Homo sapiens: one gene and its partner. The protein of the gene in region 2 interacts with the protein of the main gene of each other region in a pairwise test. Each region holds a gene or a part of one and is shown on either strand. Other genes may lie near its edges.

What was found.
Region 1: the proteins of KIF9 (region 2) and CYTIP interact in binary tests that used the Homo sapiens proteins (3 or more experiments, as listed by UniProt).

Annotation. Positions count from the first base shown.
Region 1 is NC_000002.12:157,437,468-157,441,218, reverse strand, and holds part of CYTIP (cytohesin-interacting protein), read left to right. Parts: intron 1-127; exon of another isoform or gene 128-1,943; intron 1,944-3,751. UniProt on the Homo sapiens protein: By its binding to cytohesin-1 (CYTH1), it modifies activation of ARFs by CYTH1 and its precise function may be to sequester CYTH1 in the cytoplasm.
Region 2 is NC_000003.12:47,281,033-47,284,783, forward strand, and holds the start of KIF9 (kinesin-like protein KIF9), read right to left. Parts: upstream 1,768-3,751; 5' UTR 1,561-1,767; coding exon of another isoform or gene 1,463-1,560; exon of another isoform or gene 1,108-1,462; intron 164-1,107; exon of another isoform or gene 1-163. Other genes in the region: KLHL18 (kelch-like protein 18), read left to right, coding at 1,934-2,062. UniProt on the Homo sapiens protein: Essential for normal male fertility and for progressive motility of spermatozoa.

The sequences.
Region 1 (3,751 bases), on a different chromosome or scaffold from region 2:
AGGTGTTTCTCTGCCTACTGTTATTTTCAACACTTTCAGGGCTGACGTCAACAGCTCATACTTCTTGTTGTTGTTGGCTTTGGTTTCTGCAAAGCTATATCTGGTTAGCTTGTAGTTTCAAATTATTAGTCTTCAGAATCAATTGGGTGTTTACATTCAGAATTATTTAAAGATAGATTTCTCTGTGTGCATATTATCTCACTACCTGTACTGATAGGAAGTGTCAGACACCCCAGTATGGCTTCTACTTGTGAACACAGTTTTAGGACAAAAAAAAAAAATCTTTGCAATGGAAAGCTCGGTAGGAAGGAGACAGGAGGAATTAAGGACAGTCTCTATCAATGATGTCAAAGAAGTAGTGATTGTCTTACCACCCACTCTCATAAATGTAGTACGTTGCTTTTGGAAAGCAGTTTTTACAGAATGCTATAGTGAGAACCAGGGACCTGACAAACAAGTCCACAAACTTCAGTGGTACCACAGACTGACTCTCTTTTCCTAATTTTCTTTTAGTTATCACATTATTGCTAAATAGGCAACTTCTGGCAGGCTGATTTCATCTATAAGTTCAGATAGGGAATGTGTGCTCTGCTCTGGGATGTGTACACTGCTGGGCTGGGCTCTGCCCTGCAGGAGCTTTCACGGTGTGTCCGGCAGCACACCCATCAGGTGCCGTAACTCCCAATTGTCCTGAACTACACCAAAGGATTTTAATCACCTCATGACAATTTTAGGTAGAAAACTGTGCTAATTTCACTAGAAAAGACTTTGAAAATTATTCTTTAATCTGTATTGTGGCATGCATGGTCAATATCCAATAATTTTTCTTGAAGAGTCTGTGAGCCCACCATCAGACCTTACTTGGAAATGGCGGTATTGTATTTCGGTTTCTCCGGGCACTTAACGTCAGGAAATTAAGTTCAGCTCCATTATTTTGTTGCATCTTTGAATAGTCTGTGGAGCGTTGATATCCTAATGCTCCTTATTTAAAAGTGGGTGGGAGTTGCATGGAAGAATTGGGGAGTGAGGCAGGGGACTGGAAAGGGAGCAGAGCACATAATTTTGGGGCCTTTGAAACAAGTAACAGTGACAAAAAACCTCACTCTGGAATCAGTAACCTCTCCCCCGCACCCTCCCCAACACTTTCAGGAGATGAGTATATAGAGTGGGGACCAGGAGGAAGTAACCTCTGTAACCCAGAAGTGGCTAAAGTGTTGAACTTTGAGCTTCTCTAAGGAGAGCTGGCTATCTGGCTGAGCTGCCAAGTACTCCTGTCTTTCAGAAATTGACAGCTGAAGTATTTGGTCTTGGTTTCCCACTGAAGAGGAATGTGTAGAATCACTGCAGAGCAGAAGAAATTAAATTTTGAATATTAATGCCTGATCTTTTAAGTTATCTGACTAAAAACAGAAGAGTGATCATAAGCCCAACCCTAGGTATCAGTGTATTATGGCTAGCAAGGAGTTAAGAAGCTTTGTCTATTCAGCAGTCATAATTGAATGTGTAGTTTGCAAGCCTGCCAAATTGCTAAACCTAGATTTCTCATATTAGATAATGTGTAATAAAAGACAGCTGTTGCCAGCATATGCTGTGAATTGCACACCAGTTCCTCATTCATGATTTTTGGCGCCATCACTACAACCCTTAGAAAAGGCTCTGACTGGAGGGCTGTCTGGGGAACATAGACCCCACTGGTCAGATCCTTGAATAAGGCTGCTCGCCCTAGGGAAAGCGGGGCAGGAAAGACTTTTTTTTTTTTTCAAAGTGCAAAACCCTTGATAAGACCTTAGACACACTTCATTTCACTTTAGGCAGGTAGTTTGGTGTGTGAGCTAGTTTCGAACCCTGGGAACATTCCTTTCCACATCGCCTGAGTCTGACAGCCCGGATCAAAAACAAGCAGGCTTTGTGTCAAGACGTGGCACGTGTCAGAGAATTTGACGGTACTTAATTTATTTAAATTGTTTTTTGTTTAAGTGTTAGATGCTTGAAACAGCCTCTTAGCTAATACCGAATGGAAACTAATTTGTAATTTGACTTAATCTGACTTTTGGTGTTGCTGATAACCCAAATTAGTCAGTCCACAGGAACTGAAAATCTGCTATGCTTCTCATGTTGTGCTAGACAAATATTTTCATCTTTAACTAGTCAATTAGCTAGATAGAAAGGTTAGAAGTAGAGTGGTGGGGGAAATATCTATAGAGGCTTCAGGTCTGTCCTGTGGTTTAAAAGATTTTACATTTGAATCTATCCAGAATGACTTTTGATTCAAAAGACCGATTGGATGAAATCTTGAAGTTCCTAATAGATGCACTGATTTCCGGCATACTAAAAGGGTATTTAAAATTGACAAGGCTCAAAATTTTACTAATAATTTATTAATTCTTGCCACCATTCATCCACTTAGCAGCTATGTACTAAGGCACTACTATCTTTGTTTTCTGTTAGTACTTTTTCTGCATTTCTTGTTTCGGATTGAATTTTTTTTTTTGTTCTTGTCTGTTTTCTTTCATTTAAAATTTTTTGGTTTTTAAAATTTGTACTTATTCAGTTGATATATAATCATACATACTCATGGTATACATAGTGATGTTTTGATACGTGGAATGTACAGTGATCAGATCAGAGTAATTAGCATATCCATCACCTCCCTCACACAATGATCATTTCTTCATTTTGGGACTGTTGAATATCCTCCTTCTAACTATTTGAAACTAGTACATGATATACTATTGTTAACTATAGTTAGCCTACAGTATAGAGCACTAGAACTTATTCTTCCTATCTAGCTGTAATTTTTTATCCTTTAACAAGTGTGTCCCTATCCATTTCTTCCCCCAACCCTTCCCAGCCTCTAGTATCCTCTGTTCTACTTTTTACTTCTATGAGATCAACTTTTTTTAGCTTCCACATATGAGTGAGAACATGTGGTGTTTAACTTTCTATTCCTGGCTTATCTCACTTAACATAATGTCTTCCAGTTCAATCCATGTTGCTGTGAATGACAGGATTTCATTCTTTTTTATGGCTGAATTGTATTCCATGGTGTATATATACCACATTTTCTTTATCCATTCATCTGTTGTTGGACACCTAGGCTGATGCCATCTCTTGGCTATTGTGAATAGTGCTGTAATAAACATGGGAGTGCAGATGTCTCTTCGATATAATGATTTCCTTTCCTTTGGATGAATTCCCAGTAGTGGGATTGCGGGATCATATGGTAGTTCTATTTGTAGTTGTTTGAGGGACCTCCATACTGTTCTCCATAGTGGCTGTACTAATTTACATTCCCACTAACAGTGTATGAAAGTTCCCTTTTCTCCTTATCCTCACCAGCATTTATTATTTATTGTCATTTTGATCATAGCTATCCTAACTGGTGTGAGATGATACCTCATTGTGGTTTTAATTTCCATTACCCCAATGATGAGTGATATTGAGCATTTTTTCATATATTTGTTAGCCATTTGTATGTCTTCTTTTTCTTCCTTTCTTTTTTTTTTTTCTTTTTTTTTTTGAGATGGAGTCTCACTCTGTCGCCAGGCTGGAGTGCAATGGCATGATCTCAGCTCACTGCAACCTCCGCCGCCCGGGTTGAAGCGATTCTTCCAACTCAGCTTCCCTAGTATCTGGGATTACAGGCACCTGCCATCATGCCTGGCTAATTTTTGTATTTTTGTAGAGACGGGGTTTTACCATGTTGGCCAGGCTGATCTTGAACTCCTGAGCTCAGTTGATCCACCCTCCT
Region 2 (3,751 bases):
AGGCAAGGATTGTGCTTTTTATCTCTTTTGAATCCCCTCACAATGTCCAGGGCAGAGCCCAGCACAGAGTAGGTATTCAGGAAATGGCGGTGGTTGGTGATGGTAATGGCTGGAAGTCAGAGGGCAGCTGAATCTTCATATGTGGGTCTATCTTCAGTCACTACTGAGAGAGTCCCAAGGGGCATATGATGTCACTCCCCTTCCATGACAACTCCAACCAAAGCCCACAGCCCTTCCAGGAGGACACTTGGTTTCCAGGTGCAAAAATCCACATCCAGCACCTCACCACACGCTTTTTTTGTTTTTGTTTTTGTTTTTTGTTTATTTGTTTTTGTGACAGGGTCTCACTCTGTCACCTAGGCTGGAGTGCAGTGAAACAATCTCGGTTCACCGTAGCCTCCACATCCTGGGTTCAAGCGATCCTCCCACCTCAGCCCCGCAAGTAGCTAGGACTACAGGCGTGCACCACCACGCCCGGGTAATTTTTGTATTTTTCGTAGAGACAGGGTTTCGCCATGTTGCCCAGGCTGGTCTTGAACTCCTGAGCTCAAGCAATCCGCTCACCTCAGCCTCCCAAAGTGCTAGGATTACAGGCGTGAGCCACGGCGCCCGGCCCCCTCCCTTTCTCCCTCAGGACCTTGTGGGGAATGTCTCTCCTTGGGGAACCACCCTTTGATATTTCTGGTATAACAAAGCAAGTCTCTGAATGGCCACCAGGAGACTTCTGTGTTAAGGCGCTCGAGGTTTCCTCATTTGTCTTTAGTGGGAATGAACAGAATTGGCAACAAGCAGCCATGAAGACTAGACAAGAGGAAAGGGAGCGTTTGGTGGGGTGGAAGGCACCAGGTGGGTCCCTATCTTCCAGTGCTCCCGTCCAGATGAGGGGCTGTCATGGGGAACCCTCATAGCTACCCGTAGCGGCAGCACCAACACCCGAATCCAAAACACTGGGTCCAACTGCACCTGGCCTTGGCTGAACAAGACTAGGATGCAGGCAAAACTAGACTTTCTCCTTTTTCTCACCCAATGTGCCGGACCCCCGCGTGGAGCCTGGGCGGCAGTGGGCTTTGGACCCATTCCGGTCCCTCTCTGGAGAGGTTTCCTCACCTGTAACACGAAGGGCTCCGACTGGTGATCCCAAAGCCCCCTCTAGTTCGAAAACTGACTAGTACGGAAGAGTCCAGACGACCTCTGGCTCCCTGCCTCACGGCCTCTATGTCCTGGACGCGACGTGGGACCCCTTTGTGGGACCAATGAACATTAGCTCCGAAGACCGTAAGCCGCGGTCAGGTTGAAAGGACTCCCGCGACGTCGAGCCCTCCTTCGCCTGGGTTTCAGAGATGAGCGACCCAGCTGGGAACCCCCAGATAAAGCGGTTTTTGGACCCCAGCCACTTTCAGCAGTCCGGGCGCACACCCTTTTCCCGTCTCCCCACTCCCACCGGCGAGCAGCCCCTGCTCACCGTTCACCAGGCAGCGACGCTCCCGGGACGCGACTGCCGCAACCGAAACCACCTGCACTCCCCACGCGGGGCTGCCTGGCTGTGTACATAGTCGCCATGGCAACGGGTCGCTTCCGGGGATTCCGGAAGTGTCGGGGTGGCGGAAATGAAGTCCGAGGTCCTACGTCGAGGATACGGGTGAGGTCATGGCCGAATCGGGAAGACGAGAGATGGGGCCGATTGATCTAGAAAGACTTCGGCGGATGCACATGCGAAGTCAAGGTCGAGATAGCGAGGGAACGAAGGCCGCACATGAACCAGGAAGCGGAGTGGCGGGGCTTCCGGCGCCGAGGAGATTCAACTACGGCGGCCGCGGAGGCCCGTCCGATTGCTGCTCCGCGCTCCGAGCGGCTGTCGGCGTGCGCTATCGCCCCGCCCTGGTTAGTGTCTAGCCGGCCGGCGAGGCCTGCGCAGTTGCAGCGGCCGGGGAAGATGGTGGAGGACGGCGCGGAGGAGCTGGAGGATCTGGTGCACTTCTCCGTGTCTGAGTTGCCTAGTCGCGGCTACGGCGTCATGGAGGAGATCCGGCGGCAGGGCAAGCTGTGCGACGTGACCCTCAAGGTACCGCGGACTGGGCGGCAGCGGGCTGAGGGAAAAGGGGTCGAGCGGGGAGTAAAAAGGGGCGGGGGACAGAGAAAGAGAGGTCTAGCAGGGAGAGGGGTGGGGAGAAGAGGTGTGAGGGGGGCCGAGTAGTGGGGAGAGAGGTGCCGAGCAAAAGGGGATCGGGGCCGAGTGGGGAGAGGAAGAGGACAACCTTTCAGCCCTTGAAAGGAAAGGTTGAGAGGTGCGCCGCTTAGGCCCTTGGAGTGGGAGACACGGGTGACAGCCTCCTTTTTCTGTCATGCAGACAAGAGAAAATGGACTTACCTTCTATGGAGGCAGGGGCGGTGGCCGGCTCCACATGCTGATGGGCACCACTGAAGAACCTTCTCTTGTCACTACAGATATTTCTTTGTGCCTGTCGAACTTGGCTGTGCTGTTCTAGAAGAGAAGGCTTCTCCTTAGGAATCATTGCCCTTAATTGTTGAATTACTACTTTGTCTCTTAAGAGCTTTTAAAATCTTCTCTGGAAAATTTTTGAGGTGGGAAGCCACCCTGCCCCATACTGGAAGGCACCACTCACCACCACAAAGGTCCCCGGGGCTGGGCCTGCTGGCCGCGTGGGGAGAGGGATGCTGACTGATATTAAGAGGGAAAGATATCTTAACCACCTGTTCCCCACCAGCATTCTGGTCGCTAGAGCCAGCCTCCCTCCTGTGCCTGGGTCTTTTCATGAGGAAGAGGCATGCTGTGCTGCTGCCTGGCCAAGCCACCGAACCATGTGGAGACGTCCGGTTGGGGAGATGATCAGTGGGGCTCCCTGTTGGGCTTTAGCTGGAAAGCTCTCAGCATCTGTGCGTGATCCCTGTTTAAAAAACAAACAGGGCAGGCATGGTGGCTCACACCTGTAATCCCAGCACTTTGAGAGGCGAGAGGATCACTTGAGTGGGGGAATTGGAGACCAGCCTGGGCTATGTAGGGAGACCCTGTCTCTACAAATAATAAAAAATTGTCTGGGCATGGTAGCCTGTGCCCGTAGTCCCAGCTACTCAGGAGGGTGAGGTGGGAGGATCGCTTGAGCCTAGGAGGTCAAGCCTGCAGTGAGTTGTAATCACACCACTGCACTCCAGCCTGGGCAACACAGCAAGATCCTATTTCTCCTATTTCTCTCTGTCTCTCTCACACACACACACACACACAAATAAATAAATAAAAGAAAAAATAAAACTATGCAGAGATTCTTTTGCTCTTCTTTTCTTTTTTCTTTTTTTTTTTTTTTTTGAGACGGAGTCTCGTTCTGTTGCCCAGGCTGGAGTGCAGTGGCGCTATCTTGGCTCACTGAAACTCTCTCTCCTGGGTTCAAGCGATTCTCCTGCCTCAGCCTCCCCAGCAGCTGGGACTACAGGCGCGCACCACTACCCCTGGCTAATTTTTTCTATTTTTAGTAGAGACAGGGTTTCACCATGTTGCTCAGGCTGGTCTCGAACTCCTGAGCTTCAGCAGTCTGCCTGTCTCGGCCTCCCAAAGTGCTAGAATTACACGCGTGAGTCACCGCGCCCAGCCTGCTCTTCTTATTTTCTACATGGTTAAGGAAACTTTTCTTCTGCAACATAGTTGAGTCAGACCTCTGGAGATGGTAGAGTAGGATGGTTGAGTATGGCTTTGAAAGCAGAAGGATTTGGATTAAAATCCTAGTTGTAACCTTGAGCA